Homo sapiens: one gene and its partner. The protein of the gene in region 1 interacts with the protein of each later gene in a biochemical or structural test. Each region holds a gene or a part of one and is shown in the gene's direction. Other genes may lie near its edges.

Region 1 (3,500 bases):
CAGAAGGAACAGTAATACAAAATTTGGCTACGTTGCTGTCTGCTAGGAACAGTTTTCAATTTTGCATTAACAATAAGGCAATTTGAATCACATATTACAAGCAAGCATCTAAAATAATCTGTTTTTCATGCCTGCCTATCTAATAATGTAATGCTATAATTGTTCAGTATATCAAGAGACAAACTCCTTTAAAATATTTTAGGGCTGGGTGCAATGGCTCACACCTGTATTCCCAGCACTTTGGGAGGCCAAGGCAGGAGGATTGCTTGAGGCCAGGAGTTCAAGACCAGCCTGGGCAACATAGCAAACCTCATCTCTAAAAAAAATATATATATATATATATATAGCCAGGCATGGTGGCTCAAGTCTGTAGTCCCAGCTACCCAGGAGGCTGAAGTAGAAGAATTGCTTGAGTCCAAGAGTTCAAGATTGCAGTGAGCTGTGATTGCACCACTGCACTCCAGCCTGGGTGACAGAGTGAGACCTTGACTGTAAAAAAAAAAATTTTAGGTTATGACACTTGAGTCTTAGATTCTATGTCATGTCATTTCCATCTTTAGAAACTTGCATGTTAATCTCCATCAGCTTTAAACTTCTGCAGTTGTGTGCACTCTTCTGTAATCTCCCATTTCCACAGCTTTTCAGCTCTACTAGAAGGAGAGAAGATGGCAACTCCATCAGAATACTTGGCTTGGCTTGGCTTGCCATCTCTTCTGTTTCCTTCTCAGACTTTACTATTCAAATTGGAGTTGCCATCCTCTCTCCTTCCAGGAGGATTCATGTCACTTGTATACATTACCGCAAAGTTCAATAGCCAACTCTTCCAGGAAGCTATATGTAACTTTCTGACTGAGCTAAATAAACAACTTTTTCTCTCATGTGGCATTTCATTTTAAATAATCATATATGTATATATAAAAATATATACACATATGTATATACACACACATATATGCGTGTGTGTATATGCATGCATGTTATGGATGGATATTTGTGTCCCCCAAAAATGTATATGTTGAAATCCTAACCCCCAATATGATGGTATTAGCAGGTAGGGCCTTTGGGAAGTAATTGGGTCATGAGAGTAGTGCCTTCATGAAAGGTAGTGCCCTTATCAGAACAGGAGACAGCCAGCTTCTTTCCTGACTCTGTTCTGTTCCATGTAAGGACACAGGGAGATGATGACCATCCCCAAACCAGGAAAAATGCCCTCACCAGACACCAGACACCTTGATCGGGACTTCCCAGCCTCCAGAACTGCAAGAGATAAATGTTGTTTAAGCCACCCATCTGTACTATTTTGTTATAGCAGCTCAAACACACACACATACACACACACACACACAATCCAAAAATTTGAAATCCAAAATGCTCCAAAATCTGTAACTTTTTAAGCACCAGGACACCACAAGTGGAAAATACTACACATAAGTACTTAACACAAACTTTGTTTTATGCACAAAGTTATTTAAAATATTGCATGAATGGGCCAGGCACAGTGGCTTATGCCTGTAATCCCAGCACTTTGGGAGGTTGAGGTGGGCGAATCACTTGAGGTCAGGAGTTTGAGACTAGCCTGGTCAACGTGGCAAAACCCCATCCCTTCTTAAAAAATACAAAAATTAGCCAGGCATGATGGTGTCCACCTGTAATCCCAGCTACTTAGAGGCTGAGGCACGAGAACCCACAAGGCAGAGGTTGCAGTGAGCCAAGATTTCACCACTGAACTCCAGCCTGGGCAATAGAGTGAGACCCGGGCCAGGTACGGTGGCTCACGCCTGTAATCTCAGCACTTTGGGAGGCCAAGGGGTACAGATCACGAGGTCAGGAGATTGAGACCATCCTGGCTAACACAGTGAAACCCCTTCTCTACTAAAAATACAAAAAATTTGCCAGGTGTGGTGGCACGCGCCTGTAATCCCAGCTACTCAGGAGGCTGAGGCAGGAGAATCACTTGAACCTGGGGGGCGGGTGTTGCAGTGAGTCGAGATGGCACCACTGCACTCCAGCCTGGGTGACAGAGCGAGACTCTGTCTCAAAAAAAGAAAAAAAAATAGAGCAAGACTCTGTCTCAAATATATATATATAAAATACATATATATGTATGTGTGTGTGTATATATATAATATATATGTATGTGTGTGTATATATATGTATGTGTGTATATATATATACTTGAGACAGAGTCTCACTCTATTTATACATATATTTAGTATATATATAATATAATATATATATATATTGCATGAAATCTCTTTCCCTCTCCCCTCCCTCCCTCTTAGGACTTCATTTGAATCTCTTACTGCAAGCTAACTTTTATTAAAATGACCTTTGTATGAGTCTTCTCCTCCATAGATTGGAAGCCCCTATCGAACAAAACCATGTCTTACTAATTTTTTGCATTTGAATATAAGGTACTCAATACTTGTTTGCAAATATAATTTATTTTTAAATTTCTACCGTTCAAAGTTGACAAATTAAACATAACTGGGAGAATTTTTTCCACCATTTCTTTCTTGACACTTTCTGTGCTTTCTCTGTAGGTGCTACTCTTGCCTTGCGGACTAAATTTTCAGCCAGCCAGTTTTGGGATGACTGCAGAAAATACAACGTCACTGTCATTCAGTATATCGGTGAACTGCTTCGGTATTTATGCAACTCACCACAGGTAACACTCCCCCCGTTTTACTATCATTTTGAAATGGGTAAGATGGAAATTCAAGTCACTTTGGGTTGTGCTAGGCTTCAACTGATTTGCATATATCAGTTTTGAGTTTAGGATACAATTATCATGATAAAGTACTTGGCACTATACCTACCATATAGAGGGGACTTAGTAGGTGGGAGTTAATATTATTATTATGATGATGATTATTTCCTGCCTTTTTACTTGTTTTCACATCTTACTCCCCACCTAGCATATCCTGCATTTCCCCCTCTGCTTACTAAAAGCCAGTGTCAAAGCCCAGTTCAAATGATACCTCATACATTAAACATATTTGGGTCACTCCAACAAAAGTCATTACTCTTCTCCCCTACGTCATTTTATTTCTACCCTCTGTGGCCCTTGTCATGTTGCAGGAGTTTGTGTTCATGTCTCCCATCCTTCCTTGGCTGTAATATCTTTGATGGCTGGAACCACATCTTGTCTCCTTGTTTTCTGTTATACCGAAGGCATACAGGAAACTTTTACTTAATGCTGTTTAACAAATAAATCTCTGTGTGACTTTGAAACCAGCCAGCCAAGTCTGTCACCAAGCTGGGAACAGATGCCCCAGGGCATCTCCAATGGCCTTGGATCTGCCCTGTTTGCAGATGTTCAGCTCTCGATGGGGTTGTTCTCAAGAGCTCCTCCTGCCCAGTCCCTCAACTCTCATCAGAGATCTGGTATCAGATAGGATTTATCAATGGTGGCACTGCTGACATTTTGGGCTTTTAATTCTTTGCCGCGCGGACTTATTCTGTGCATTGTAGAGTGTTTAGCACCCTTTGGACTTTGC
Region 2 (4,019 bases), on another chromosome or scaffold:
TAAAGGTAGCTCCAAACCCCGCTGGGCGTGATGCTCTGTGGTATGCCTGCACTTTTCTTTCTTCAGTACGTACTTATTCCCGTCGCAATGAATCTCCACACTTTGTTCTGCTCATCCATGAATTCCTTCTCACGACAGTGTCAAGAGCCTGGACACCAGTCAGGGTCGAGGCCTCACCAGCATCTTGGGGCCTCACTGGGCACAGACGCGTGAGCGCCCGGCCTGCAGACCTGACTCTGGCAGCCGCTCAGGCCCTCAGAGGGAGAGATGGAAGCTGGCAGGACGCAGTTGCTACCGCGCGGACCCGGCCCCCGACCAGCCTTGGCCCCTCGCGCGCCGGGACAGGGCCACAAATGACTGCACCTGGGCTTCGCTGGCCCAGGCACCACGCGACTCTAAGCGCGCCCAAAGCGACCCTCTGCGCAAACTACCCCCGGGGACGACGTCACCCGTGAGGTCCCGCGGCGCCTCCTCCTAAAGCTCGGCTGGGAAACCGTCCGCTTCCCCAAGACTTGGGGGCTTGTGGCCGAGTTGTTTTAGTTTTCCTGTAGGATTCACGGGTGGCTGAGGCAAACACGCTTGAAGGCCTAAGACTTTTAAGTCTCTTCCGCACCCTCTCTTCTGTCTCTTCCACCTGGAGGATGACCGCTTTTTTGGGGGTTTTGTTGTTGTTTTGAGACGGAGTCTCGCTCTGTCGCCCAGGCTGGATTGTAGTGGCGCCATCTCCGCTCACTGCAACCTCCGCCTCCCGGGTTCAAGCGATTCTCCTGCCTCAGCCTCCCGAGTAGCTGGGATTACAGGCGCCCACCACCATGCCCGGCTGATTTTTGTATTTTTAGTAGAGACGGGGTTTCGCCACGTTGGTCAGGCTAATATCAAACTCCTGACCTCAGGTGATCCGCCCTCCTCGGCCTCCCAAAGTGCTGGGATGACAGGCGTGAGCCACCGCGCCCGGCCGGGATGACTGTTATTAACAATTCCCGGCGTGGTTTCTAGCACCAGCCCACCTACCACACCCCACCTCGCTTGAGGCTGAATGGGTAACAGGATGAACCCGCCCCTGGGCTGGTTTTCTCTGAACCCTAACTCCTGCCGTTACGCCCCACCAGCTCTAGGCCAGGAACTCTATGTGCCCCGGCCACGCTAGAGCCCGTACCTAGACCCGTAGGTCGGGAGGCCTGCGCCCGGCACTGCGCAGACGCAGCGTGCTGTGCCCAGAACTCTTCTGTTCCCAGGAGAATCAGGGGAGTCGGCGCCGGAAGGGGCGGGTCCGAGCTGAGATTTCCAGAGCCATGGGAGCCGGAAGTCCAAGGAACTGTACCTCCATCATGACGACTCCGGTTACGTAAAAACATTCAAACAGAAAATGCTGGCCAGGCTCATGCCTGTAATCCCAGCACTTTGGGAGGCCGAGGCGGGAGGATCGCTTGTGCCCAGGAGTTGGAGACCAGCCTGGGCAACATAGTGAGACCCTCCCCCCACCCATCTCTACAAAAAATTTTAAAATTAGCTAGCTGAGATCATGCCACTGCACTCCAGCCTGGACAACAAAGTGAGACTATGTCTCAAAAAAATTTAAAAATTACCCACGCCTGTAGTGTCAGATAGTCAGGAGGCAGAGGTTGGAGGATGACTTGAGCCTTGGGGATCGAGGGTGTAGTGAGGTATGATCGCACCACTGCACTCCAGCCTGGGCAACAGAGCAAGACCCTGTCTCAAAAACTATATAAAAGAAAAAAGGGCTGGGTCGGTGGCTCACGCCTGTCATGCCAGCACTTTGGGAGGCCGAGGCGGGTAGATCACCTGAGGTCAGGAGTTTGAGACCAGCCTGACCAACAAGGTGAAACCCTGTCTCTACTAAAAATACAAAAATTAGCTGGCCATGATGGTGGGTGCCTGTAATCCCAGCTACTGGGGAGGCTGAGGCAGGAGAATCACTTGAACCCCAGAGGTGGAGGTTGCAGTGAGCCGAGATCACACCACTGCACTCCAGCCTGGGCGACAGAGCGAGAGACTCCGTCTCAAAAAAAAAAAAAAAAAAAAAAAAACAGAAAAAAGGCCGGGCACGGTGGCTCACTCCTGTAATTCCAGAACTTTGGGAGGCCAAGGCGGGCGGATCAGGAGTTCGAGACTGCCTGGGCAACATAGCGAAACCCCGTCTCTACTAAAAATACAAAAAATTAGCCAGGCGTGGTGGCGGGCTCCTGTAATCCCAGCTACTCAGGAGGCTTAGGCAGGAGAATCACTTGAACCCAGGAAGCAGAGGCTGCAGTGAGCCGAGATCACGCCATTAAACTCCAGCCTCGGTGACAGAGTGAGACTCCATCCCCGCTCCGCTCCCTCACCTCCCGCCAAAAAAAAAAAAGAAAATGCACTGCAATAGAAAAATAAAAGTACTACACTTTGGTCAAACAGGGTAACTACTAGAACGTAAAATGATCTTTTTGAAACTATCCACATTTGTTACACGTGTTGAAAATGTAGGATATATATGTTATATATATACTTATATATGTTATATATACTTATATATGTTATATACTTATATATGTTATGTACTTATATATTATATATACTTATATATGTTATATCTACTTATGTTATATACTTATATATGTTATATATACTTATATATGTTATACATACTTATATGTTATATATACTTATGTTATATACTTATATATGTTATATATACTTATACATGTTATACATACTTATATGTTATATATACTTATATATGTTATATATACTTATATATGCTATATATACTTATATATGCTATGTATACTTATATATGTTATATATATACTTATATGTATGTTATATATACTTATATATGTTATATATGCTTATATGTATGTTATATATGCTTATATGTTATATATACTTACATATGTTATATATACTTACATATGTTATATGTACTTACATATGTTATATATATACATATATGTTATATATATATAATTATATATATATAAAACAAAAAGCACGGTTACTACAAAGAAAACAGGTAAACATTAAGTGGAGTAAAAGTATATCCTGTTATATAAGGGACTTGAACATGTCTGGGCATGGTGGCTCAAGCCTGTAATCCCAGCACTTTGGGAGGCTGAGGCGGGTGGATTACTGGAGGTCAGGAGTTCGAGACCTGGGCAACATAGCAAGACCTTGTCTCTATTAAAAAATAGATAGATAGATAGATAGATAGATACATAGAACATCAAAAGAGGGAGAGAGAAAGCAGACAGATGTGGCAAAATATACACAATTGGTAAATTTGGGTGAAGGGAATATAAGTTATTTCTACTAATCTTGCAATTCTTATGTATATTTGCAATGATTTCTAAATAAAAGTTTTTAATTACCAATTGAAATAAAGTAAAATAAGTCACTATCTAGCCTTTTCTAGACAAATATTTTAAACTCTTACACAGAGATAAGTTAATCAAGAAACGTATTTCCTGGAAAAACCCGTGATATGGGTGGAGCCACCTGGGAATAAAAGGTCGGAACATCATAATCACTGTCAGACTCAACTTCCATCATTCTCCTCCAGGCGCTATGGAGTCTAATCCAGGCACTTTGGAAGGCTGAGGCTGGAGGATCGATTGAGGCCAGGAGTTTGGGACCACCCTGGGCAACATAGCAAGATCTCATTTCTGAAAAAAGAATTATCATCCACTCACCCAGAACAGCTCTCCAAACTGTAAGTTTCATTCAAGGTTTGCTTGTTTGGGTGATGGGATGTGTGTGTGTGTGTGTGTGTGTGTGTGTGTGTGTGTGTGTGTATGTGTGTGTGAGTGTTGGAAGGAGGGTCTGTCTAAACTTAATGCCCTAAAGATATTGTCAGATATTGTGATGAGGGGAATTTCATCTTCTACCCTTTATGAGGTTGAATTGTAAATTCGAAAATCCTGATTCTGGGTTTTTATTTTGAGGGGATAGTTTTCTGTTTTCTGTGGCATTGGATATTGGCATTTTCAGAAAAGAGCATGCATCCAAAATGAAAATGATGA

What was found. The genes of interacting proteins can lie anywhere in the genome.
Region 2: the proteins of SLC27A2 (region 1) and USP29 form a complex in vitro, tested with the Homo sapiens proteins (one study listed by BioGRID).

What each region holds. Positions count from the first base shown.
Region 1 is NC_000015.10:50,202,696-50,206,195, forward strand, and holds part of SLC27A2 (long-chain fatty acid transport protein 2), read left to right. Parts: intron 1-2,543; coding exon 2,544-2,668; intron 2,669-3,500. UniProt on the Homo sapiens protein: Mediates the import of long-chain fatty acids (LCFA) into the cell by facilitating their transport across cell membranes, playing an important role in hepatic fatty acid uptake.
Region 2 is NC_000019.10:57,118,766-57,122,784, forward strand, and holds the start of USP29 (ubiquitin carboxyl-terminal hydrolase 29), read left to right. Parts: upstream 1-1,219; 5' UTR 1,220-1,464; intron 1,465-3,559; 5' UTR 3,560-3,709; intron 3,710-4,019.